Homo sapiens: one gene and its partners. The protein of the gene in region 1 purifies or fractionates together with the protein of each later gene. This does not show direct contact. Each region holds a gene or a part of one and is shown in the gene's direction. Other genes may lie near its edges. The genes, in order: TOPORS, PML, UPF3A, DHX15, SMARCC2, DDB2 and HNRNPM.

The links.
Region 2: the proteins of TOPORS (region 1) and PML purify together in Homo sapiens (affinity purification with western blotting; 2 studies listed by BioGRID, with this or other methods). This does not show direct contact.
Region 3: the proteins of TOPORS (region 1) and UPF3A purify together in Homo sapiens (affinity purification with mass spectrometry, with the first as the bait; one study listed by BioGRID). This does not show direct contact.
Region 4: the proteins of TOPORS (region 1) and DHX15 purify together in Homo sapiens (affinity purification with mass spectrometry, with the first as the bait; one study listed by BioGRID). This does not show direct contact.
Region 5: the proteins of TOPORS (region 1) and SMARCC2 purify together in Homo sapiens (affinity purification with mass spectrometry, with the first as the bait; one study listed by BioGRID). This does not show direct contact.
Region 6: the proteins of TOPORS (region 1) and DDB2 purify together in Homo sapiens (affinity purification with mass spectrometry, with the first as the bait; one study listed by BioGRID). This does not show direct contact.
Region 7: the proteins of TOPORS (region 1) and HNRNPM purify together in Homo sapiens (affinity purification with mass spectrometry, with the first as the bait; one study listed by BioGRID). This does not show direct contact.

Annotation. Positions count from the first base shown.
Region 1 is NC_000009.12:32,540,044-32,542,586, reverse strand, and holds the end of TOPORS (E3 ubiquitin-protein ligase Topors), read left to right. Parts: coding exon 1-1,200; 3' UTR 1,201-2,043; downstream 2,044-2,543. UniProt on the Homo sapiens protein: Functions as an E3 ubiquitin-protein ligase and as an E3 SUMO1-protein ligase. Probable tumor suppressor involved in cell growth, cell proliferation and apoptosis that regulates p53/TP53 stability through ubiquitin-dependent degradation.
Region 2 is NC_000015.10:74,018,716-74,022,215, forward strand, and holds part of PML (protein PML), read left to right. Parts: intron 1-3,500.
Region 3 is NC_000013.11:114,302,101-114,305,600, forward strand, and holds part of UPF3A (regulator of nonsense transcripts 3A), read left to right. Parts: intron 1-2,688; coding exon 2,689-2,817; 3' UTR 2,818-3,500. UniProt on the Homo sapiens protein: Involved in nonsense-mediated decay (NMD) of mRNAs containing premature stop codons by associating with the nuclear exon junction complex (EJC) and serving as link between the EJC core and NMD machinery.
Region 4 is NC_000004.12:24,553,555-24,557,054, reverse strand, and holds part of DHX15 (ATP-dependent RNA helicase DHX15), read left to right. Parts: intron 1-644; coding exon 645-804; intron 805-2,111; coding exon 2,112-2,330; intron 2,331-3,500.
Region 5 is NC_000012.12:56,179,484-56,182,983, reverse strand, and holds part of SMARCC2 (SWI/SNF complex subunit SMARCC2), read left to right. Parts: intron 1-904; coding exon 905-980; intron 981-1,148; coding exon 1,149-1,280; intron 1,281-1,386; coding exon 1,387-1,502; intron 1,503-1,882; coding exon 1,883-2,007; intron 2,008-3,500. UniProt on the Homo sapiens protein: Involved in transcriptional activation and repression of select genes by chromatin remodeling (alteration of DNA-nucleosome topology).
Region 6 is NC_000011.10:47,221,474-47,224,973, forward strand, and holds part of DDB2 (DNA damage-binding protein 2), read left to right. Parts: intron 1-3,500.
Region 7 is NC_000019.10:8,465,475-8,468,974, forward strand, and holds part of HNRNPM (heterogeneous nuclear ribonucleoprotein M), read left to right. Parts: coding exon 1-41; intron 42-760; coding exon 761-914; exon of another isoform or gene 915-1,140; intron 1,141-2,027; exon of another isoform or gene 2,028-2,060; coding exon 2,061-2,110; intron 2,111-3,299; coding exon 3,300-3,360; intron 3,361-3,500. UniProt on the Homo sapiens protein: Pre-mRNA binding protein in vivo, binds avidly to poly(G) and poly(U) RNA homopolymers in vitro. Involved in splicing.

The DNA of each region.
Region 1 (2,543 bases):
AGAACTAGAGATAGCAGTTGGTCCAGAAGAAGCCAAACTCTGTCTCTAAGTAGTGAAAGCACAAGCAGATCAAGGTCTCGTAGCAGTGATCATGGTAAAAGAAGATCACGGAGCAGAAATAGAGATCGTTATTATTTAAGAAATAATTATGGAAGCAGATACAAATGGGAGTATACTTATTACAGTAGAAACAAGGACAGGGATGGGTACGAATCATCTTACAGGAGGAGGACTCTGTCCAGAGCTCATTATTCTAGACAGTCTTCAAGTCCAGAATTTAGAGTTCAGTCCTTTTCTGAAAGAACAAATGCTAGGAAAAAAAATAATCACAGTGAGAGGAAGTATTACTACTATGAAAGGCACAGATCAAGGAGCCTGTCTAGTAACAGATCAAGGACTGCATCTACCGGGACTGACCGGGTGAGAAATGAAAAGCCTGGAGGGAAACGAAAATACAAAACACGGCATTTGGAGGGTACTAACGAAGTGGCTCAGCCATCTCGTGAATTTGCTTCTAAAGCAAAGGACAGTCATTACCAAAAATCTTCATCAAAATTGGATGGAAACTACAAAAATGAGAGTGATACCTTTTCAGACAGCCGATCATCAGACAGAGAGACAAAACACAAAAGGAGAAAAAGGAAGACCCGGAGCCTAAGTGTAGAGATAGTTTATGAAGGAAAAGCTACTGATACAACTAAACACCATAAAAAGAAAAAGAAGAAACATAAGAAGAAGCATAAGAAACACCATGGAGATAATGCTTCACGTTCCCCAGTTGTAATTACCATTGACAGTGACAGTGATAAGGATTCTGAAGTAAAGGAGGATACAGAATGTGACAATAGTGGTCCTCAAGACCCTCTACAAAATGAGTTTTTGGCTCCTTCCTTGGAACCATTTGAAACTAAAGATGTAGTTACAATAGAAGCTGAATTTGGTGTGCTGGACAAGGAATGTGATATTGCCACACTTAGTAACAACTTGAATAATGCCAACAAAACTGTAGATAATATTCCACCTCTGGCAGCTTCAGTTGAACAAACTCTCGATGTAAGAGAAGAGAGCACCTTTGTTTCTGATTTGGAGAACCAGCCCAGTAACATTGTGTCTCTTCAAACTGAGCCATCAAGGCAATTGCCATCGCCACGGACATCATTAATGTCAGTATGTCTTGGTAGAGACTGTGATATGTCTTAAAACTGCCAAAGCATTTCATTGAGAATTATGATGTTATAAAAAGGAAAAAGGAAGAATGTCGTCTACTGCAGTCTATTTAAAGATGACATTTGGTGAAAACTCTCTTCCTCCTTACAATATTTTAAATGATTTTTTTTTTGGTGTTAATTTGTAAAAATCATTATTTGTTCAAAATGTATGTCCCACCCTCAAAGATATGCACTTTTAAGTGAAGAAAATGATACTGCTAGCAGCTTATTTAAAACTTGGGGTCCTTTTTAAATAAGAAAAATTATATAAATTTTAGAAGTTATTTCATAAAGCCATACGGTATTGACATATTTTTAAGGTAGTCAATGAGTATTTTTGAATTTTTTTTTTTTGAGAGTTATTCTGGAAATGTGTTATAAGCTAGGAGAATCCCTTTGGACAGTCTTTATTTTTCTTCTTAAAAATTTATATGATTCAAAACCATTTCTTCAGGTTAAATTGAGGCATTTTAATCTGCACAGTTTATCTTCTGCCAAAATAAAAATTTACTATTTCCTTTATATACTTGTTTATCTGGACTGCCAGTAAAACAAATGTGTATTCAACAAAAGAAAAAAAATAAAACAGTAACACTTTAAAACAAGAATCAGACATTTTCCTATGCAGTATTTTTTTTTAAAGTTTATTTTAGTAAAGTTAAAATCTTGAAAGTAGCTAAGGGCATAATTATGTCATAAATACTGAACTTCAGGTGAACAAATACTTTATAGTTTTAATTATTTTCTTTGATTTTGAGGAGTATCTTATTTGCTTTCTATCATCAGTAAAAACAGCATTTAACTTGCTAAATAAACATGAAAAACCCTTGTCATACTTCTTTTACATTGGTAGTTCTTTCATATAAAGTGGTTATGTTTTATCTTGTTTTAGGGATGATAAAATTACATCTATGCTGATGTAGGATTGCCACTGAACAGTGGAGCTTGAGTTAAATCTTAATTCAGCCTTCAGTTTGCCTTTGCCTTGCTACTGTATTCATTCTTTATTCAGTAGAAATTGCAGTGCCTACTATGTGGCAGGTTCTGCACTAAGTTTTGGGGTTTTTTTTTTTGTTGTTGTTGTTGTTTTTTTTTTTGAGTTGGAGTCTGGCTCTGTTGCCTAGGCTGGAGTTCAGTGGTGCAATCTCACTTCACCACAACCTCTGCCTCCCGGGTTCAAGCGATTCTCCTGCCTCAGCCTCCGGAGTAGCTGGGACTACAGGCACGCGCCACCATGTCCGGTTAATTTTTGTGTTTTTAGTAGAGGCGGGGTTTCACTATGTTGGCCAGACTGGTCTCAAACCCCTGACCGTGATCCGCCCGCCTCAGCCTCCC
Region 2 (3,500 bases), on another chromosome or scaffold:
GCTAAGATAGAATTATGCTATTTTTCTTTCTTAATTATTATGTAATCTAGCCACTTTGGTGAGCAATTTCTTATTAAGTTAGTGGTGTTTTTGCTTATTGTTTTGAGTATTCCAGAAGCAAATAGATGTTATTTCGCCTTTCTGAAGATACGGTTAAGTCTGGGTTCTTGTCACGGAGCCCTTCTGGGCAGTTTCCCACTTCACCTCTGCCTCCTCCAAAGTGCCAAGCACGCAGCAGGTACTCAGTGAGTGTCCTCTGAATGAAGGTAAAGGAACCGCTTGGCTAAGGTCATTCCTGGCCCTGGGTGGCAGCCCTTTGATTCAGGATCTGCACCTCAGTCTTACCAGAGGGCTGGGGGCTTTTAGACCCAGGTGTCTGATTCAGGCTAGCCACCTCACAGACACTTGCCGCCCATTTCCATCTAGAGGGAAAGCAGGGGCCAGTCACCCTAGGGAGACCCCATTCAGGACAAAAGAAGCTTAGAAAAAGGACCCAGCGGAGGCTATGGCCATCCAGAACGTCTTGCTCTCTATCCAGCCAGGCTGCCTGAGGCGTGCCCTTCCAGGCTTGGAACCCTGTCTCCAAGGAAGGGGATCCAACATCAGACACAGCCCCTCTCCCCAAGTGTCCAAGATCCAAAGGGGGAAAATAACAACTGTTTCTTATTCTCTTCCCTTTATTCCTATACCCTATAGAATTGCCCACATTTATTAGTATTCTGTTTTTTAATTTCAAAAAAAGGAATACATTCATACATTCACAAGGCTCAAACATAATCTAAAAAGGTATGCAGTGAATGTCTTACTCTACCCTCATTCCACCCATCCCATAGCCACTTTTATTAATTTGCATGTCCTTTTAATATTTATTTATTCAAATACAATCAACTATGAAGATATTCTTATTTTTCCCCATTCTTACACAAAAGGTAGCATCTGATACACACATTTCTGCACCTTGATTTCTAACTTAAAATATATATCATAATAATACAAATAGTTAGCATTTATTGAACACTCATTGTATGCCAGTCATTTTTCAAACTTTTATCCATATATTAACTCATTTAATCCTTCCAGTACTCCTATTATTAACCTCATTTCTCCATGGAGAATTTTCCTTATCAGTATATAAAGAGCTTCCTCAATGGCTTACAGCTACATAGTATTCCGTTGTATGGGTGGATCATAATTTATGTAACTAATTGCCTTGTGAGGGACACGTGGGTGGCTTCTAATTCTTTGCTATTGTGGACTGTGCTGCAGTGAATATATTGTATGGATATCATCTTGTTATGTGTAGAGATAGAGCTGCAGAGCAGATCCAAAGAAAGAGGATTGCTGGGTTAAATGCATTTGTAATTCTGATGGGTATTGCCAAATTGCCTTCTGTAGAGTTATTAGTTCTTTTCATAATTGCTTAGTATTTCTAATTAAACGTAGCATTGATGAGCACTATGTATCAGTCTGGCTGGCTAGTAGGCTCTCTGTTGGTGGTTCCAGAACAAGTTGATCTCAGTGTAGTCCCAGATGAGACCCTTTCTTCTGGCCTCAGGTGGGCTGACTTATTCCTTTTTTTTTTTTTTTTTTTTGAGATGGAGTCTTGCTCTGTTGGCCAGGCTGGAGTACAGTGGTGCAATTTTGGCTTACTGTAACCTCCACCTCCTGGGTTCAAGCAGTTCTCCCACCTCAGCCTCCCAAGTAGCTGGGATTACAGGCGCACACCACCAAGACTTATTCTTATCACTGCCGGTGAGAGTAAATTACAGCAATATTTCTGGGGAACTAACAGTATTTTCCCTGGTAATATTTGAAGAAGCAGCCTTGTAATGGTTAAGAACATGGACTCTAAGCTGGACTGCCTGGGTTTTTATATTTTCTTTCGCTGCTGTAACAAACTACCACAAATTTAGGGGCTTAAAACAATGTAAATGTATTCTGTTATGGTTCTGGAGGTAAGAAGTCTGAAACAGGTCTCACTGAGGTATATAAAGGTGTCAGCAGGCTTTGCTCCTTTGGGAGGCTCTCAGGGAGAACGTTTTCTTGCCTTTCCCAGCTTCTAGAGGCTGCCCACATTCCTTGGTGCATGGCCCCTTTCTGTCTTCAAAGCCGGCAACATCACAACATTCCCACCTCTGCATTCATCACATCACATCTCCTCTCATTCTCCTGCCTCCCTGCCCTTTCCTTTGAAAGGATTCACGTGATTACGTTGAACCCACCCAGATAATCTAGAATAATCTCTTTATCTCAAAGTCCTTAATTGAATAACACCTGCAAAGACCCTTTTGCCATAGTAAGGTGACATATTCACAGGTCTCAGGAATTTGCACGTGGACATCTTTAGAGGCCACTATTCTGCTACTACAGTTTGCATCTAGACTCTACCACTTACTAATCGTGTGATCTTGAACAAATTATTTTGCCTCTTGCACCAGTTTTCTCATCCTTAAAATGGGGATAATAATGGTATCTATTCCACTGGATTGTCAGGAGGATTGAATGAGTAAATATTTGCCAATGCTTATAATAGTATCTGAGACACAATAAATGCTATGGAAGTATCTGCTAGCTAAAATATATTAACCAGGCCAGGCACGGTGGCTCACACCTGTAATCCCAGCACTTTGGGAGGCTGGGGCGGGTGGATCACCTGAGGTCGGGAGTTCAAGACCAGCCTGACCAACATGGAGAAACCTCGTCTCTACTAAAAATACAAAATTAGCCGGGGTGGTGGCGCATGCTTGTAATCCCAGCTACTCGGGAGGCTGAGGCAGGAGAATTGCTTGAACCCGGGAGGCAGAGGTTGCGGTAAGCTGAGATGGTGCCATTGCACTCCAGCCTGGGCAACAAGAGCGAAACTCCATCTCAAAAAAAAAATAACCAAATAAAAATATTAAAATACAAACACTTTGATCTAGCAGGCCTATATTTATAATCTATTTCATAGGAACAAAAGCTTCCATGATTAGGCTATATAACTTGGATATTACTAAAGTGTTGTCCATATTGGCACCAAAAGAAAAAAAAAAGGAAAGGAAAACGAAAGAAAGAAAATGCACAAACAGGAAATTACCTGAATGCCAGCAAAACGACAGTGATTGAATCAATTGTGGCCCATCTGGGATATACCAGAGCTATTAAAGAGAATACATCTGATCTGTGCCTATGCACCTAGAGGAATGCTCTGAGTGAAAGTTCGTTGAGAGGAGGAAGTTCAAAGTAATTATATGACTTGATTTATTTCTTTCTTTTTTTTGAGACGGAGTTTTGCTCTTGTTGCCCAGGCTGGAGTGCAATGGCACCATCTGGGCTCACCGCAGCCTCCGCCTCCCGGGTTCAAGCAATTCTCCTGCCTCAGCCTCCTGAGTAGCTGGGATTACAGGCATGCGGCAACACACCCGGCTAATTTTGTATTTTTAGTAGAGACGGGGTTTCTCCATGTTGGTCAGGCAGGTCTTGAACTCCCGACCTCAGGTGATCCTCCCGCCCCGGCCTCC
Region 3 (3,500 bases), on another chromosome or scaffold:
CACTTGGCCTTGTGTCTTGGGGAACGCAGTGCTTTGAGCATTTTCAAGAGCAGTTTTTCCTGAAAGTCAGATCCCAGAGTGAGACTAGTCATCATCTTTTCTCAGATAATCAAATTATTTTTCACCAGGAAAAAGAAAGATTTTATTTAGTATAAAACTAGCACGTTTATATGATTCACTTGAGAATAAGATTATTAAATTTACCCTTGAGACAGGAAGGAAAGTTTTAATGATATTTCATGGAGGTTTCTTCCACATTATTAACAACATTCTGATTATTGGTGAATATTCCCATGGCTCACAAACACCTGTAAGTTAGATCTGCACGGACGGTGAGCACAGGACTGTGGTTACCCCCTTAGCCAAGCAAACAACTTTTTTTTTTCAGGAGCTAATTTTTGTTCAGGTTGCATTTTCCCAGCGCAGCACTACAGATGGCATCACCTTTCTGACAGCACCAGGCCCCACCCTGGCCTCCTAGCAAACTGAGGGCTGCCTAGGGTTCCAGTTCCCACTCACCTCCCTCCCCATGTCTAACCCCTGGCAGCCACTGTCTGTTCTCTGCCTCTGTGATTTTGTCATTTCAAGAATGCTTGATAAATGGAAACACACAGTATGTGAGCTTTGAGAGTGGCTTTCTTCACTCAGTCTAATTCCTTTCAGATCCTTCCAGGTTGTTGTGTGTATGAACGATGTTCACTTTGAAACTGTTTCAGTGTAGCTGGGCATGGTGGCTCACACCTATAATCCCAGCACTTTGGGAGGCTGAGGCGGGTGGATCACCTGAGGTCAGGAGTTCGAGACCAGCCTGGCCAACATGGCGAAACCCTGTCTCTACTAAAAATACAAAAAATAGCTGGGCGTGGTGGCGCGCCTGTAATCCCAGCTACTCAGGAGGCTGAGGCAGGAGAATTGCTTGAACCTGGGAGGCGGAGGTTGCAGTGAGCCAAGATGATGCCATTGCACTCCAGCCTAGGCAAGAAAAGCAAAATTACCTCTAAAAAAAAAAAGTTTCAGTGAAGTCAAGGCTGAAAGCCAGAGGAGAGCCTTCTTGTCTTCACCCTTGAATGAACACCTCTAGAATACTCCAGTTCTCTGGGGTTGCCTGGACCTCGGGGTGCACAAAGTACAGCCATGCGTCTTTTTGATAGGGCGTTGCTCATAGGAGTCCTCAGTCTTCAGTTGGCTTATTTTAGCAGTGGTGAATGGCCTGGTGTTTCCCCCGACCTGAGGTGGGGGAGCATTTGCTCCTGTGTTTAGCCTCACAGTGCTGTGGTGGGAATGAGGCGCTGTGTGCAGGAGCTACTTTCCCGGGAGCCTGGCATTTGTCATGTACTTCTAAGGTCAGGCTCCATGCTCCATCTGTGTATACAGGTATTGCCCTGGTAAGAAGCAGAATTGTCGGCCCGGTGCGGTGGCTCATGCCTATAATGCCAGCACTTTGGGAGGCCAAGGCGGGTGGAACACCTGAGGTCAGGAGTTCGAGACCAGCCTGGCCAACATAGTGAAACCCCATCTCTACGGAAAATACAAAAATTAAGCGGGCATGGTGACACATGCCTGTAATCCCAGCTACTCAGGAGGCTGAGGCAGAAGCATCACTTGAACCCAGGAGGCAGAGGTTGCAGCGAGCCCAGATTGCGCCATTGCACTCCAGCCTAGGCAACAAGAGTGTAACTTTGTCTCAGAAAAAAAAGAAAAACAAACAGAGCTATGCGTGCTGGCTCCAGGCAGCCTGTCCAGGGGCCTGCTGAGCCTGTTCCCACCCCTCCCATTGGTCAGGTTCATACCAAGGAAAAGAAAATTAAGTTAAACCCCCTGGTGGTAAGCAGATGTGGGCTTCCACACACAGTCCAGGAGGAGGTAGAGGTGAGCTGGTGAATCCTGGAGAAGGAGCGCATGAGATGTACCCACATGGTCGTCCTTGCAGCCCACACTTGGGCTCCTGGTGGCTGTTGGAGGCTAAGGCTGCAGCTCTGCAGGGAGAATAGGCAGGGAGCGGGAGGCGCGTGGAGCAGGAGGCTCACGGAAGCTGGAAGCCGCCTTCCTCCTCTGCCACCCCTTCAGTGCTGGGGCAGGGCTGGTGGCCCCATCAGGAGGAATTGTGCTGCTGTCGCTGCTGACACTAGCCTTCAGGGCCACTCTATGCTTCCCTGGCTGTTGCCTTCTTCAGGCCCTCAACAGCTGCCCTTCATGGACTTCATGGGTCATTTTTATTGCTTCACCTCCAGGAGTTTAATAAAATGATGGGGTGATGTCTTCTAAAAAGGGACCAGTTCAGTCTCCCTGCTGGTACATGCTAGGCAGGGATAAGCCCCATGGAAATTGCTTACTACTCACGTTAATAAGTTTTAGTTGGCAGATCTGAAACCATCTGTGAGGGTCCACATCTCATTTTGTTCACTTCCCAACTCAGAGGGGGACGTCATGATTGTACTGTTCCCACAGATTACATGTTCTTGTTTGAGCAATAACATTTGCCCAGATAACCAGTGTTTACATGGCTTTTTTAATTGCCTTAGAATGCCTGGTTTCTGAGATAGTGCTGTGAAAAAAGGGCTGATTTTTAGCTGCCTAGTTGATTTTCTTTGGACAATTCATATCATCAAGTTCTAGAAATATAGGGAGATATTGACCCTTCTGTGTTGCTACCTCTTGGAAGAGTAACATGCCCTCTTATCCTGGCAGGACCGGCCAGCCTTGCAGCTGTATGATCCAGGAGCTCGCTTCCGAGCGCGAGAGTGTGGCGGAAACAGGAGGATCTGCAAGGCAGAAGGTTCGGGGACTGGTCCTGAGAAGAGGGAAGAGGCAGAGTGAGTCACTGCACGCACCTGGCCTCCATGGACGAGCAAGGGCATCCCAGAAACGTGTAAATGACCCCGAGTGTGACTGGGAAGGAGAACTTATTCCTTACCAGGAAACTGGAAGCTAAAAATACAGAGGGTGACGTAGAAACACGCAGAAACCATTCTAAAGAAAGTAGTGATCTTGTATTAAATTGAGCAGAATTCTCACAGATTTTACCATTCCTGTTATAAACTAGTATTTGTTGTTTAGCCAAAACAGAAAATGATTTCCACTGGACAGTAGAAAAATATGTGTAAAATAGGGAAGAAAGTTAGTATTGGATCAGTGTGAGTCCTGAAGCACTTTCAGTGCTGTGAGAACGACATCCACTTTGGGTTTCATTCGTTTGTAAGCAGAGGAGCTGTCAGTCACTCGTGCTTCTCGGTGGCCTCTGAGCCATGGTGTCGAGTGAAGAGTAGTTCTTGTTTGTTACAACCTTTGTGAGTCAGCCATGCCCGCAAAGCGTGCTGTGTTTTAGTCCTGGTAGGAATATTTATCAGAGTTCACACTATATAAAACCCAACAGCTTCAACTATTGCCCTTTCAACAGTTTTGCCACTGACCGGATAGAAACGGTTTCAGTCTCTGGATGGATGTGTTTGTGGTTTGTAACCATTACGGTTTAAACCATGGTTTAAGAATTTGCCCAAATA
Region 4 (3,500 bases), on another chromosome or scaffold:
CAATCTGACGTCATTTGTTTTTATCTTCCATTTATGTATCAGCATTTGTTTAGTGTTGATGCTGCCCCTCAGTCCCACTTCTTTTATTATTGAATTCCTTTTGTGCTTTAAGATTATTTCTTTGGGGTGGGAGGACTCACGCTTTCAGCCCTTTTGAACCAAGAGCCTGTTGTTAGCTTATTAAGTAAGGAATTGTTAAGGCTTAACAAAAAATGTTTATTTGCATGTGGTAACATTTTAGTGGTGTGACATGAAGCAACTTAAAATGGTTTATTAGATTTTGCGTGTTGAATATTTGTATGTTTTTAAAAGGTTTAAGAAATTGAAAATGACGAATTTTGCCTTGGCATTCATGTGAAACCATGTGATCATTATGTTCCATAATTGGTCATATCATGTCTTCCCAGTACATTTCAGTATTACATTTTTCAAGAATTGATGAAGCATATCTTGTTTCATTGTATACTCTTAAAAGATTTTCTTGAAACTTAATTTTGCAATTGATCATGAAACAGTAGCACATTTGTTTGGGGCAGAAGTTTATTTTTAATTTACCTTATGTCTTTGCATTTCATTTTTGTCACGAAGTTTGGTTTTAAAATGACCTAACGGAACCTTTAACCAACATGTTCTTTGGAATATAGGTATATGACTGATGGGATGTTACTTCGTGAAGCTATGAATGATCCCCTCCTGGAGCGTTATGGTGTAATAATTCTTGATGAGGCTCATGAGAGGACACTGGCTACAGATATTCTAATGGGTGTTCTGAAGGAAGTTGTAAGACAGAGATCAGATTTAAAGGTGAAGTAATTTCTTCTCTCCATTTAACTATATATGTGTGTATGTGGGCATAAAAATGGGGAATACATACTGATCAATAACCAACTGTAAGAAATCACCTGTAAAAGAAGGAACTAGTAAGTACCTTCTTGTTTTGTTTCTGCTTTGCTGTGCTTTCATTTTAGACTTTATTTCTCCCCCTTTATAGTAATGCATTTTTAAGCCCAATCTTCTCAATTTGTAACCCACCTAGTTCTTTTATAATCTAATAACATATATGTGTAACTGTGCTACTCACTGTACCCTTCATTAAGTACAGAGGCTTATTTTACTTAAGGATCAAATCTTTCTCCCTCAGATCCATGTCCTTGTCTCATCACAAACACCCATTGTAACTTATAATGCTGGAGAGTGGAAATAACTATACACAGGACAGGCAGCTCCTTAGAAATGTAGTCACTTACCCTCGTGTATTACTTCTTTCCTCCATACCACATGTACCTTGGCCCCTGTTACTGTATTGATTAAGGGCCTAAAACTATTTTCTGACATTTTTGTCCCCCAAAGTCTATGATGTTCCCCTTTTTGCTGTGTTGTGTGTGTATACTATTCATTGGAATGTAGACTCATCCCTTGTTGATACAAGTGTTATAGAAGGGTTCATAGCCTGGTGACAGAGTGAGACTCTTAGCAGAAACAAACAAACAAACAAGGGTTCAACACTGGCAAGAAAGATTCTGGGTCTTTAGAAAAAAAACTGAGGCCTGAGCATGTTTTTGTTTATACAAATTAGATCAATGCTTTAAAAAATATATTTAAAGAATAATGTGAGTACTATCATTATTTATTAAATTTATTGTGCTACCAAGGTTTTAGTGAGAACCTGAAAGTAGAAATTAAGAACTCTTATGAAACTTTTTATGGAGGAACCTTTTTATATCTGGTCCACTTATTTTTTTTTTTTGCATTTTCTGTTTTTTCCTATTTGCAAAGTTTTGTTTTAATAATGGTAGCAATAATTATACTGCATATTAATGTTTTCTTTTAGCAATCTGAATTACATATAATTTTATAAAATCTGATTTTAAGGTATTTTATGAAGAAATGCTGTAGTTTGTGCATTTATTTTTTTTCTAAATTTTTAAAAATGTAAATAACTTTTACTATAGTTCAGCCATTATGTATTTGATTTTTCATTTACAGTTTATTTGAAGGTTTTCATGGGCATTTTTATAGCTGATATATGTAGAATAGTAAATATTGCTATACTGTAAGACCATGTAAGAATCCTTGAAGACAGCTTCAAATAATTTACTGTTTTCTTTCAGGTTATAGTTATGAGCGCTACTCTAGATGCAGGAAAATTCCAGATTTACTTTGATAACTGTCCTCTCCTAACTATTCCTGGGCGTACACATCCTGTTGAGATCTTCTATACTCCAGAACCAGAGAGAGATTATCTTGAAGCAGCAATTCGAACAGTTATCCAGATTCATATGTGTGAAGAGGAAGAGGGAGATCTTCTTCTTTTCTTAACTGGTCAAGAGGTATTGTTTTAATTTTCTTCATTATTTAGCTTTTGACATACTGTTTCTAATATGCAGCAACCTTAATCATAAGAACATGTTAATCATATTTTTTATTTCAATGTTCTTCAACCTGATTGTATTAATATGTAAAATATATAACCCCTTTTATCTGCATACTGTAGGAATACTTCTGTATACCACTAGAGTTTGTGTTATAATTATTTTAAGAGTGTTAAATGCTTTTGGAATTTCAAGATTTTGCAATTGTAGTTTAAGAGATCCCTGGGATATAAGTGCTATTATGCTGAAGCATGAATGTGCATCACAGCTGCTTTGAAATCAGGTTATCTTCATCAGTATTTAGCTTGTGAGTGAACTTGGGTGCCTATTCATCATCAAAACACTTCAGTTTGGTTTTGTCTTCCCATATGCTCATGAAATTTGGGAAGGATTACTAAAAGTTCTTAGTTAGAATTTACTTCATTTAAAATTTTATTCTCAGATGTAGCATTTCTTTTTTTTTTCGAGACGGAGTCTTGCGCTGTCGCCCAGGCTGTAGTGCAGTGGTGCAGTCTTGGCTCACCGCAAGCTCCGCCTTCTGGGTTCACGCCATTCTCCTGCCTCAGCCTCCCAAGTAGCTGGGACTACAGGTGCCCGCCACCACACCCGGCTAATTTTTTGTATTTTTAGTAGAGACAGGGTTTCACCGTTTTAGCCAGGATGGTCTCAATCTCCTGACCTCGTGATCCACTCTCCTCGGCCTCCCAAAGTGCTGGGATTACAGGCGTGAGCCATCGCACCCGGCCAGATGTAGCGTTTCTAAGCTTCTTTTCAATAGGGTGTTTATAGGTGTGCTGTGGAATACCTGAGTGGCTAAATAAATTCAGAAGCTATTTGGATAATACAAAGTTTTAAAAAGCCTTTTACGAAAGGGTTTTTCTTTTTCTTTTTGGGGGTGGGGAGGGAAGACAGAGTCGCGCTCTGTCAACCAGGCTGGAGCGCAGTGGCATGATTATCGGCTCACTGCAACCTCTGCCTCCCGGGTTCAAGCGATTCTCTTGCCTCAGCCTCCCAAGTAGCTGGGATCACAGGTGCCCACCATCACACCTGGCTAATTTTTTTTTAATTTTTAGTAGAGACGGGGTTTCACTATGTTGGCCAGGCTAGTCTCGAACTCCTGACCTCAGG
Region 5 (3,500 bases), on another chromosome or scaffold:
CATGCACCTGTAGTCCTAGCTACTTGGGGGGCTGAGGTGGGAGGATTGCTTGAGCCCAGGAGGTTGAGTCTGCATTGTGCCATGATTGCACCACTGCACTTCAACCTGGGCAATAGAGCAAGACCCTGTCTCAAAAAAAAAAAGCATGTAAAATATCATCTAGTATGGTTATGATTATGTAAAAACATCATCTAGTATGGTTATGATTATGTAAAAAGAAAATTGTGGACCAGGCACAGTAGCTCACTCCTATAATACTAGCACTTTGGGAAGCCAAGGCAGGAGGATCACTAAAGGCTGGAAGTTCAAGACCAGCCTAGGCAGCAAAGTGAGACCCTGTCTTAACAAAAACAAAAACCCCAGCTGGACGCGGTGTCTCATGCCTGTAATCCCAGCACTTTGAGAGGCCGAGGTGGGTGGATCACGAGGTCAGGAGCTTGAGACCAGCCTGGCCAAGATGGTGAAACCCCGTCTGTACTAAAAATATAAAAATTAGCCGGGCGCAGTGGCAGGCACCTGTAATCCCAGCTACTCGGGAGGCTGAGGCAGGAGAATCGCTTGAACCCGGGAGGCGGAGGTTGCAGTGAGCCGAGATCGCGCCACTGCACTCCAACCTGGGTGACAGAGCAAGAGCAAGACTCTGTATCAAAAAAAAAAAAAAATTACTGTGGAGGAAAAACAGATATACAAGTATCAAGAGTAGTTACGTAAGGGTGATTCTTTTTGTTCTCTATTTTTGAAATGTTTCGTAATGTGCTTTTACTACTTTATAATGAATAGAATACAAAAAAAATAAGCCAAGAACCCAATACTTTCTGTAAATGGAAAGGGTAAAAGATCTGCACTTTACTTTTCCACAATTCTATCCCATTGATTCTACTGTGTGCTCAATTTCCCATGGCAGTTACGACACGTGGATCCCAGCGAGTGAAATTGAGGCATCTGTGGAAGATGCTCCAACTCCTGAGAAACCTAGGAAGGTGAGCTTTTCTTGTATCCCCTCTTCCCCAAAAAGAATGCCAGGAACAGTCTACCCTTTGGAAGTGAAACAGAGGCTTGTATGCCCTTGAGCTTTTTCTGTTAAGGGTCCCCAGACAGAGCTGTGGCTTCCAGGCTTCTCTGCAGCATGATCTGCCTTTGTACTTTAGGTTCATGCAAAGTGGATCCTGGACACCGACACCTTCAATGAATGGATGAATGAGGAAGACTATGAAGTAAATGATGACAAAAACCCTGTCTCCCGCCGAAAGAAGATTTCAGCCAAGACACTGACAGATGAGGTGACAAATCCTGTTCTTTTTTTCCTGGCGCCCTTAGCATAAGTCTCAGAACAAATCTTCAGTGGGGATTGTAGGCTGACATTTGTCCTGATTCTCCATCCTATAGGTGAACAGCCCAGATTCAGATCGACGGGACAAGAAGGGGGGAAACTATAAGAAGAGGAAGCGCTCCCCCTCTCCTTCACCAACCCCAGAAGCAAAGAAGAAAAATGCTAAGAAAGGGTGTGCCAGCCCCTAGCCTGCCCCCGTGTTCACCATTCTCTCCACATCATGTTGAAGGAAGGAAAGACAAATCCCTTCCTATAACCACCTGGCCCTGACCTGGGTGTGCCATAATACTGCAGGTGTCCTGAGAGGGAAGATGAGGAGATCTTTAGCTGCTCAGTTGTTAGTTCTGGTTCTGGCCCCACTAGTACATTTAAAGAGAGCTTTATCAAGTGAAAAGCCTTTGCCACTTCCCATTACTGTGTGATTACTGGTTTCTGTTTGTACTCAGCTCTACCCTTGGAATTCTCTGTCACTTCCCTTCCCTTGAACTTCAACTTCCAGGGACTCCTTGTCCAAGGATGACTGGGTTCTCTTTCACTCTCTTTCCTTCCCAGTCCCTCAACACCTTACACTAAGTCAAAGCGTGGCCACAGAGAAGAGGAGCAAGAAGACCTGACAAAGGACATGGACGAGCCCTCACCAGTCCCCAATGTAGAAGAGGTGACACTTCCCAAAACAGGTACAGGCCAGGCTGAGCTCCTGGGATCCACCCCCACTCCCCGTCTTGACTCTCCTTTGCCAAACCCCAAGTGAGCTGATTTCTCAGGTCCACCTCCCAGTCTACAGGATCTTTTCCTTAAATTTAGCTGGTTATTGGAATTACGGTCATTACCCTGGAAAATCCTCTAACTGTATATTCATATCTGAGTTGTGGACTGTGCTTTGTGCCTGATAGTAGTTGTCTCCAAACTCTTTGATTATGTGTTTCTGACAGTAAAATATATTTGAGCATGGCCAGGCACGGTGGCTTATGACTGTAATCCCAGCATTTTGGGAGGCCGAGGCGGGCGGATCACCTGAGGTCAGGAATTCGAGACCAGCCTGGCCAACATGGTGAAACCCCATCTCTACTAAAAATACAAAAATTAGCTGGGCGTGGTGGTGGGCACCTGTAATCCCAGCTACTCGGGAGACCGAGGCAGGAGAATTGCTTGAACCTGGGAGGTAGAGGTTGCAGGGAGCCGAGATTGTACCACTGCACTCCAGCCTGGGCGACAAGAGCAAAACTCCATCTCAAAAAAAAAAAGGGCCGGGCACGGTGGCTCATGCCTGTAATCCCAGCACTTTGGCAGGCCGAGGTGGGCGGATCACGAGGTCAGGAGATCGAGACCATCCTGGCTAACATGGTGAAACCCTGTCTATACCAAAAATACAAAAAAATTAGCTGAGCGTGGTGGCGGGTGCCTGTAGTCCTAGCTACTCAGGAGGCTGAGGCAGGAGAATGGCGTGAACCTGGGAGGCGGAGCTTGCAGTGAGCTGAGATCACGCCACTGCACTCCAGCCTGGGCAACAGGGCGAGACTCCATCTCAAATAAAAAAAAAGAAAAAAAAATGTATATATGCATTAATTATGTACTTGTACTGTTAAGCCGCTACCATGGGAACGTTTTAAAACACAAACATATCTAAAAAATTGAAAAATGTAAAGAATGATAAAAACAAACATGAAGAATCAGGGCGCGGTGGCTTACGCCTGTAATCCCAGCACTTTGGGAGGCCGAGGCAGGCGGATCACGAGGTCAAGAGATCAAGACCATCCTGGCTAACACGGTGAAACCCCATCTTTACGAAAAATACAAAAATTTGCCAGGCGTGGTGGTGGGCGCCTGTAATCCTAGCTATTCGGGAGGCTGAGGCAGGAGAATCACTTGAATCTGGGAGGTGGAGGTTGCAGTGAGCCGAGATCGCACCACTGCACTCCAGCCTGGGCGACAGAGCGAGACTCCGTCTCAAAAAAACAAAACAAAAAACATGAAGAGAAGTTCTGTATTCTCTCCCTGAGTTGCAGTGGATCATCTTTTGCGTCCTATGTTAGAACCCCACTTTGGAGACATTGCTCCACCAATACTGGTTTACAGTCTGTATTCTGTAGACTCACCCCAGGTATTCCAGAAGTGTATTTCAGGGGTAGGATTAGGGCTGCCACCAAGAAGAGTTCTGGCTTCTACCTCC
Region 6 (3,500 bases), on another chromosome or scaffold:
TCACTCTATTGCCCAGGCTGGAGTGCAGTAGCACGATCTCGGCCCACTGCAACCTCTGCCTCCTGAGTTGAAATGATTCTCCTGCCTCAGCCTCCTGAGTAGCTGGGATTACAGGAGCCTACCACCATGCCCAGCTAATTTTTGTATTTTTAGTAGAGACGGGGTTTCACCGTGTTGGCCAGGCTCGTCTTGAACTCCTGGCCTAAGGTGATCCACCTGCCTTGGCCTCCCAAAGTGCTGGCATTACAGGTGTGAGCCACCGTGCCCAGCCTGAATTTTATATTTTTGGTAGAAACAGGGTTTCACCATATTGGCCAGGCTGGTCTCGAACTCCTGACCTCAAGTGATCCGCCCGCCTCGGCCTCCCAAAATGCTGGGATTACAGGCACGAGCCACTGCACCCGGCCTGGGTTTTTAAAATTATATCTTTATTGAGGTATAGTGGACATAAACTGCAGCTATTTCAAGTGTACAATTTGGCTATTCTCAGCCTATGGGGTAGTCCTACTCCAGAGAAGCAGTAAGAAAAAAAGAATAAATTGTACAATTCCATGAGTTTTGACATATGTGTACAACTGTGAAGCCATCACCACAATTAAAATAACTCCCATTTCCCCACCCTTTGTTGAATATTTGGAGAGTGATAGATAGATGAGTTATCTATGCCCCTTTGTAATCCACCCCTCTCTACCCAATATCTTATTCACTGTAAACTGCTGATCTATTTTTTATTTTTAGAAATTAATTTACATTTTCTAGAACTATATATAAATAGAATCATAGAATATATGGTCTTTTATTTTTGTTCTAGCTTGTTTCAGTATAATTATTTGAAATTTATCTACATTTTTATGTGTAGTTTTTTTTTTCTTTCTGAATAATGGTTCATTGTTTTTTGTTTTAAGACAGGGTCTTGCTGTGTCACCCAGGGATGATCATGGTTCAGCATAGCCTCAACCTCCTCAGCTCAAGCGATTCTCCCACCTCAGCCTCCTGAGTAGCTGGCACTACATGCACAGGCCACCATACCTGGCTAATTTTAAAATTTTGTTATAGAGACAGAGGTCTCACTGTGTTGCACAGGCTGGTTTCAAACTCCTGGCCTCAAGCTATCCTCCTGCCTTAGCCTCCCAAAGTGCCGGGATTATAGGCGTGAGCCCCTGCACCCAGCCACATTGTACTGATATGATACAGTTTATTCATTTACCTGTTCAAGGACATTTGAATTTTTTTCTAGTTTTTGAATGCAACATATAAAGCGACTGTGAACATTCACGTACAAGTATTTGTGTGGATATATGTTTTCATTTTTCTTGGGTAAATACTTAGCAGTGGAATGGCTGGATTATAGAGTAGGAATGTTTTAAAGATACTTTTTAAATGAGAAAAGGTTTTTCTATTTGCCCACATATTGTCATTTCCAGTGCTTTCATTCTTTCATGTGATCCAGATTTCCTTTTGGTAATATTTTCTTTCTGCCTGAAGAAATTCCTTTCATATTTCTTATAATGCAGATTGGTGATAAATACTTTCCACTGTTGTTTATCTAGAAAAGTATTTTGCCTTTATTTTGAGGGAGGATGTTTTTGCTAAGTATAGAATTCTAGGTTCACAGTTTTTAAAATTATTTAACTTTTATTTTTTAATTGGTAAATTAAAATTGTATTTTATTGCATACAATATATTTGTTCACAGTTTTCTCCTGTCAGTACTTTAAAGATGATGTCTAGGCTGGGCGCTGTGGCTTACGCCTGTAATCCCAGCATTTTGGGGGGCCAAGGCAAGTGGATCATTTGCGATCATGAGTTTTAGACCAGCCTGGCTAACATGGTGAAACCCCGCCTCTACTAAAAATACAAAAATTAGCTGGGTGTGGTGGCGCTCACCAGTAATCCCAGCTACCCGGGAGGCTGAGGCATGAGAATCTTGAACCTGGGAGGCAGAGGTTGCAGTGAGCCGAGATGGTGTCACTGCACTCCATTCTGGGTGACAGAGCAAGACTGTGTCTCAAAAATAAATAAATAAGGCTGGGCGCGGTGGCTGACACCTGTAATCCCAGCGCTTTGGGAGGCCGAGGCAGGCGGATCACGAGATCAAGAGATTGAGACCACCCTGGCTAACACGGTGAAACCCTGTCTGTTCTAAAAATACAAAAAAAATTAGCCAGGCGTGGTGGTGGGCGCCTGTAGTCCCAGCTACTTGGGAGGCTGAGGCAGGAGAATGGTGTGAACCCAGGAGGCAGAGCTGGCAGTGAGCCGAGATCGGCCACTTCACTCCAGCCTGGGTGACAGAGCAAGACTCCGTCTAAAATAAATAAATAAATAAAGAATAAAAATAAAGATGATTTCTAGTTGGGCTCAATGGTTCATGCCTGTAATCTCAACACTTTGAGAGGCTGAGGCTGGGGGACCTCTTGAGGCCAGGACTTTAAGACCAGCCTAGGAAACACAGCAAGACCCCATCTCTACAAAAAAATCTTAAAAATTAGCTAGTGGCTTGAACTTGTAGTTCCAGCTGTTCAGGAGGCTGAGGTGGGAGAATTGCTTAAGCCCAGGGGGACAAGGCTTCAGTGAGCTAGGCAAGCCTGGGTGACAGAGCAAGATCCTGTCTCAATTAAAAACAAAACAAAACAAAACATCCTGATGAGAAGTCTGCTACTATCCTTATGTTCCTGTCTATGTAATTTTTCTTCTGGTCGCTTTAAAAATGATTATGATGTGCTTGTGGGGGGATCACTAAGCTTCTTTGATTTATGGATTTTTTTTTTCTTTTGAGACAAAGTCTCACTCTGTCGCCCAGGCTGGTGTGCAGTGCCACAATCTCGGCTCACTGCAACCTCCACCTCCAGGGTTCAAGCGATTCTCCCTGCCTCAGCCTCCCGAGTAGCTGGGATTACAGGTGCCCACCACCTCACCTGGCTAATTTTTGTATTTATTTATTTTTATTTTATTTTTTTAGTAGAGACAGGGTTTCACCATGTTGGCCAGGCTGGTCTTGAACTCCTGACCTCCAGTGATCCGCCCACCTTGGCCTCCTGAAGTGCTGGGATTACAGGCGTGAGCCACCTTGCCCAGCCCATTATTTCTTACAAAGAGTTCAAAATGAAGAAAAAGAACAGTTCTTTTTTTCTTGGGACTGCGATTACATATGGTCCTGCAGGTGGTTGATGCACTGTTCATTTTTGTCTTTTTCCCTGTTTCATTTTGTGCAGTTGTTCACTGATCTTTACTTCTGTAATATCTAACCTTCTGCTGTCAATCCCTCCCTCCCTCCCTCCCTTCGTTCCTTTCTCTCTCTTCTCTTCCTCTTCCTTTTCTCTTCTCTTTCTTGCCTGTGCAGAGCAGGGCTGCTCCATAGGCAAAGTAGCCCAGCGTATTTTTCATTTCAGATACTGTATATCCCCTCTAGAAGTTTAATTTGGATTTTTTTTCATGTCTTCCATTTCTCTCCTCATATTTATTATTTCCTCTTCTTTCTTTTTTGAGATGAGGTCTCACTCT
Region 7 (3,500 bases), on another chromosome or scaffold:
TACAGGCTGGAAGACTTGGAAGCACAGTATTTGTAGCAAATGTAAGTAAACAGAACCATCGTCTAAAGTAGAAAATCAGAACTTTATGAAATGACCTTGTCAATATGTTATAAAAGTAATTCTCACATTTGAGAAGAAAAATGTAAAGAAGGGTTTTGTTCTTGATTTCTTTAAAAATCAGCCTTATAGGCGGGCTTTGTCTGCATTCCTAAGTCACAGGCTTGACCGTGGTCTCGTTGGGGCTGTGATTCCTGAGTTTCGCAGGTGTTTCCGCAAGCAGTAACCGAGTCTGCATTCTCCGTTGGTTTATTTTATGCAGTTTTGGTGCAGAGTAAGACTGTACGAGCAGAAGTGCACTGACACCTTCCTCTTGTTGTGTCTGGGGTGAATGATAATACCTCCACCATCTGCAAGGGGAAATATTTTTAGAATAAAGTAGGTTGGGTGGGGTGGGGAGTGGTAAAGCTTATCAGGGAAACAATTTTTTAAAAATGTTCAGAAAATGAGTATTAATTTGAAGTATGAGGTGACTTAAGTTTCTGAGAAAAGAGACAATATATTTACTATAGGTACAGTTTATTTACAGTGAAGGCCAGGCTTTATAATCCTATTTTAAAATTTCCATTGCAGTTGATTAGTTTTTGTGACATTATTTCCTAATACTTTTTTCCAACCAAAGCATGTATCATTCATGTAGTAAAAATGTTGTGTTTCTTAAGATGTTTACATTGAGGTTTTTACCCCGTTCTCTCTCGATTAGCTGGATTATAAAGTTGGCTGGAAGAAACTGAAGGAAGTATTTAGTATGGCTGGTGTGGTGGTCCGAGCAGACATTCTTGAAGATAAAGATGGAAAAAGTCGTGGAATAGGCACTGTTACTTTTGAACAGTCCATTGAAGCTGTGCAAGCTATATGTATCCTTCTGCAGGAATTCAACTTATGAACAGTTTGACCTAAATTGCTGTGTTAGTAATGTAGGTTTGTGTGAGGAAGAGGTGACTGTGTGTATTCATGTTTTTTATGTGACTAGGGGGAGTGCATTACTGTGGAATTAAGAGGTTCTCTGGGCCGGACCGGTCACGGTGGCTCACGCCTGTAATCCCAGCACTTCGGGAGGCCAAGGCGGGCGGATCACTTGAGGTCAGTTCGAGACCAGCCTGGCCAACATGGTGAAACCCCGGCTCTACTAAAAAATGCAAAAATTAGCTGGGCGCAGTGGTGGGTGCCTGTAATCCCAGCTACTCGGGAGGCTGAGGCACAAGAATCGCTTGAACCCGGGAGGTGGAGGTTGCAGTGAGCCGAGATTGCGCCACTGCACACCACCAGCCTGGGTGATAGAGTGAGACTCAGTCTCAAAAAAAAAAAAAAAAAAAAAAAAGGTTCTCTGGGGGTGGAATTGATTCAATACAGTGTGGATAGAGGGGATGGTTACAACATGGGCATATGCCCATGAGTCTTTCTACTGTTTTCTTTTCAGAAGAGTCTAGGTTTGAAGGAGGAAGTCCAAAGAATGTGCTACTAGAGAGAAAGTGGGGTTGTTGTTTCATGTGTAATACATCCTTATAGGACCTCACTCTTTCCAGTGAGTAGACATCATTTTGGAAGAGGCCACTTCTCCTTGACCCTAGGCTTAGCCTAGAGTTTTTAATCCCTTGGAGAGTACCCCACAGGAGCACATTCATACAACTCAGACAAGACCGTCACTGCATGTCTTACCCAGAAAACATGGTCCTTCAGTTTAGATAGTGGTAGATGCCTGGCCCATTGGTCACATTCAGAGAACCTTGATGCCACTGCTTAAGAGGATGGTTTGGTGAAATTGTAAGGTTACGAATGAAGCTTCACACCTAAGGAATAAGCGGAAGTTGTCTTGTCCTCCCCGCCAGCTTTATTTATTGTTCCTTTTATGTTTATTGTTGAAAGTATAATGAAGAATTGAAATTGCTCATAAATTCATCACTTAGAGGGACTGGTAGCAGTTGGAGTATTTTTCTTTCTTTTTGTATTTCTCTTGTGCACATTTTTAGAATTGCAAGAAATAGCCTTAATTGTAATACCAGCTATGTTCAATGGCCAGCTGCTATTTGATAGACCAATGCACGTCAAGATGGTAAGTCAGTAGGATCTTTCTCTGTGATATACTCAAGTCTAGCAAAAACATGGAATTAATAAGAGTGTACATATAGCCACTATGAAATATTTGTGGATTAGTCTAAGTTAAATAGGGTGCAGTATGTTGAGCAAAATTGTGAGAGAAATAACATTTTGCTGGTCAGGCGTGGTGGTTCACGCCTGTAATCCCAGCACTTTGGGAGTCTGAGGCAGGCGGATCATGAGGTCAGCAGTTCGACACCAGCCTGACCAACGTGGTGGAACTCCTCCGTCTCTACTAAAAATACAAAAATTAGCCGGGCGTGGTGGCACGCGCCTGTAGTCCAGCTACTCGGGAGGCTGAGGCAGGAGAATCACTTGAACGTGGGAGGCAGAGGCTGCAGTGAGCCGAGATCGTGCCACTGCACTCCAGCCTGGGCAACAGAGTGAGACTCTGTCTCAAGAAAAAAAAAGAAGAAAAAAAAACATTTTGCTCATGGCAGCTCTTGACTGCATTAGATATTTTTCCTTTTGCACAGTTGACTGTTCATGGCGCATTCAGGAAGTCACCTGGGTATCCTGGTTGAGCAAGTGATCCGTTTCAAAGAATGGTTATATATGTGGGGTTCCAGTTTTTCAAAGTATTACAGTATAATGTTTGGTTAGCATCAAATCTGTTGTGAACATAATTAAGTCATTGATTCAGACAGCTTTTAAAGGTCTGTTGGAGCACTTCAATCTTAATAAACATTTGCTCTGCCGTAACTGTGCCAAAGATAATAATTACTACAGGCATGACTGGAACATGCTGAGGGCAGTCTAGTTGGGACTCAAATTCAGGAAAAAGATAAACTATAAAGCAATTTTTTCATTACTCTAAATAGAGTAGGTAAGTTTTTTGAATAGATGATAGATTCACGTGACTCAAAAGTCAAAAGGCATGAAAAGGTAGTGTGAAGATAGTGTGAGTCCTACTTGGACTTCTTGCCCAGGTCCCCATCATCCCCCACAATAATATCCATGTGTCTTTTCCCTTGACATAAAATAGGAAGCATGCTCCGCATGCCTTTCTACCCTTGCGTATTACTCCATGGCGTGGATAATGTGTTTAGCTGGTCCTCTCTTGATGGGGGGCCATTTCAGTCTTTTGCTGTTGCAAACACTGCTGCACTGGATACTGAGATTTGTTTGTTTTCTTTCTCTTTCAGGATGAGAGGGCCTTACCAAAAGGAGATTTCTTCCCTCCTGAGCGTCCACAACAACTTCCCCGTAAGTGTTTCAGTGATTAGGGCTGAGAGTTTGAATTGGAGTTACACTAATAAACAGAAAATTACCATATGGTTTCACTTGAACCTGTGCCAGGTTAGCCCTCAGTTCTCTTGGCCAGTTCTTTTCTATAGATTTTTCAG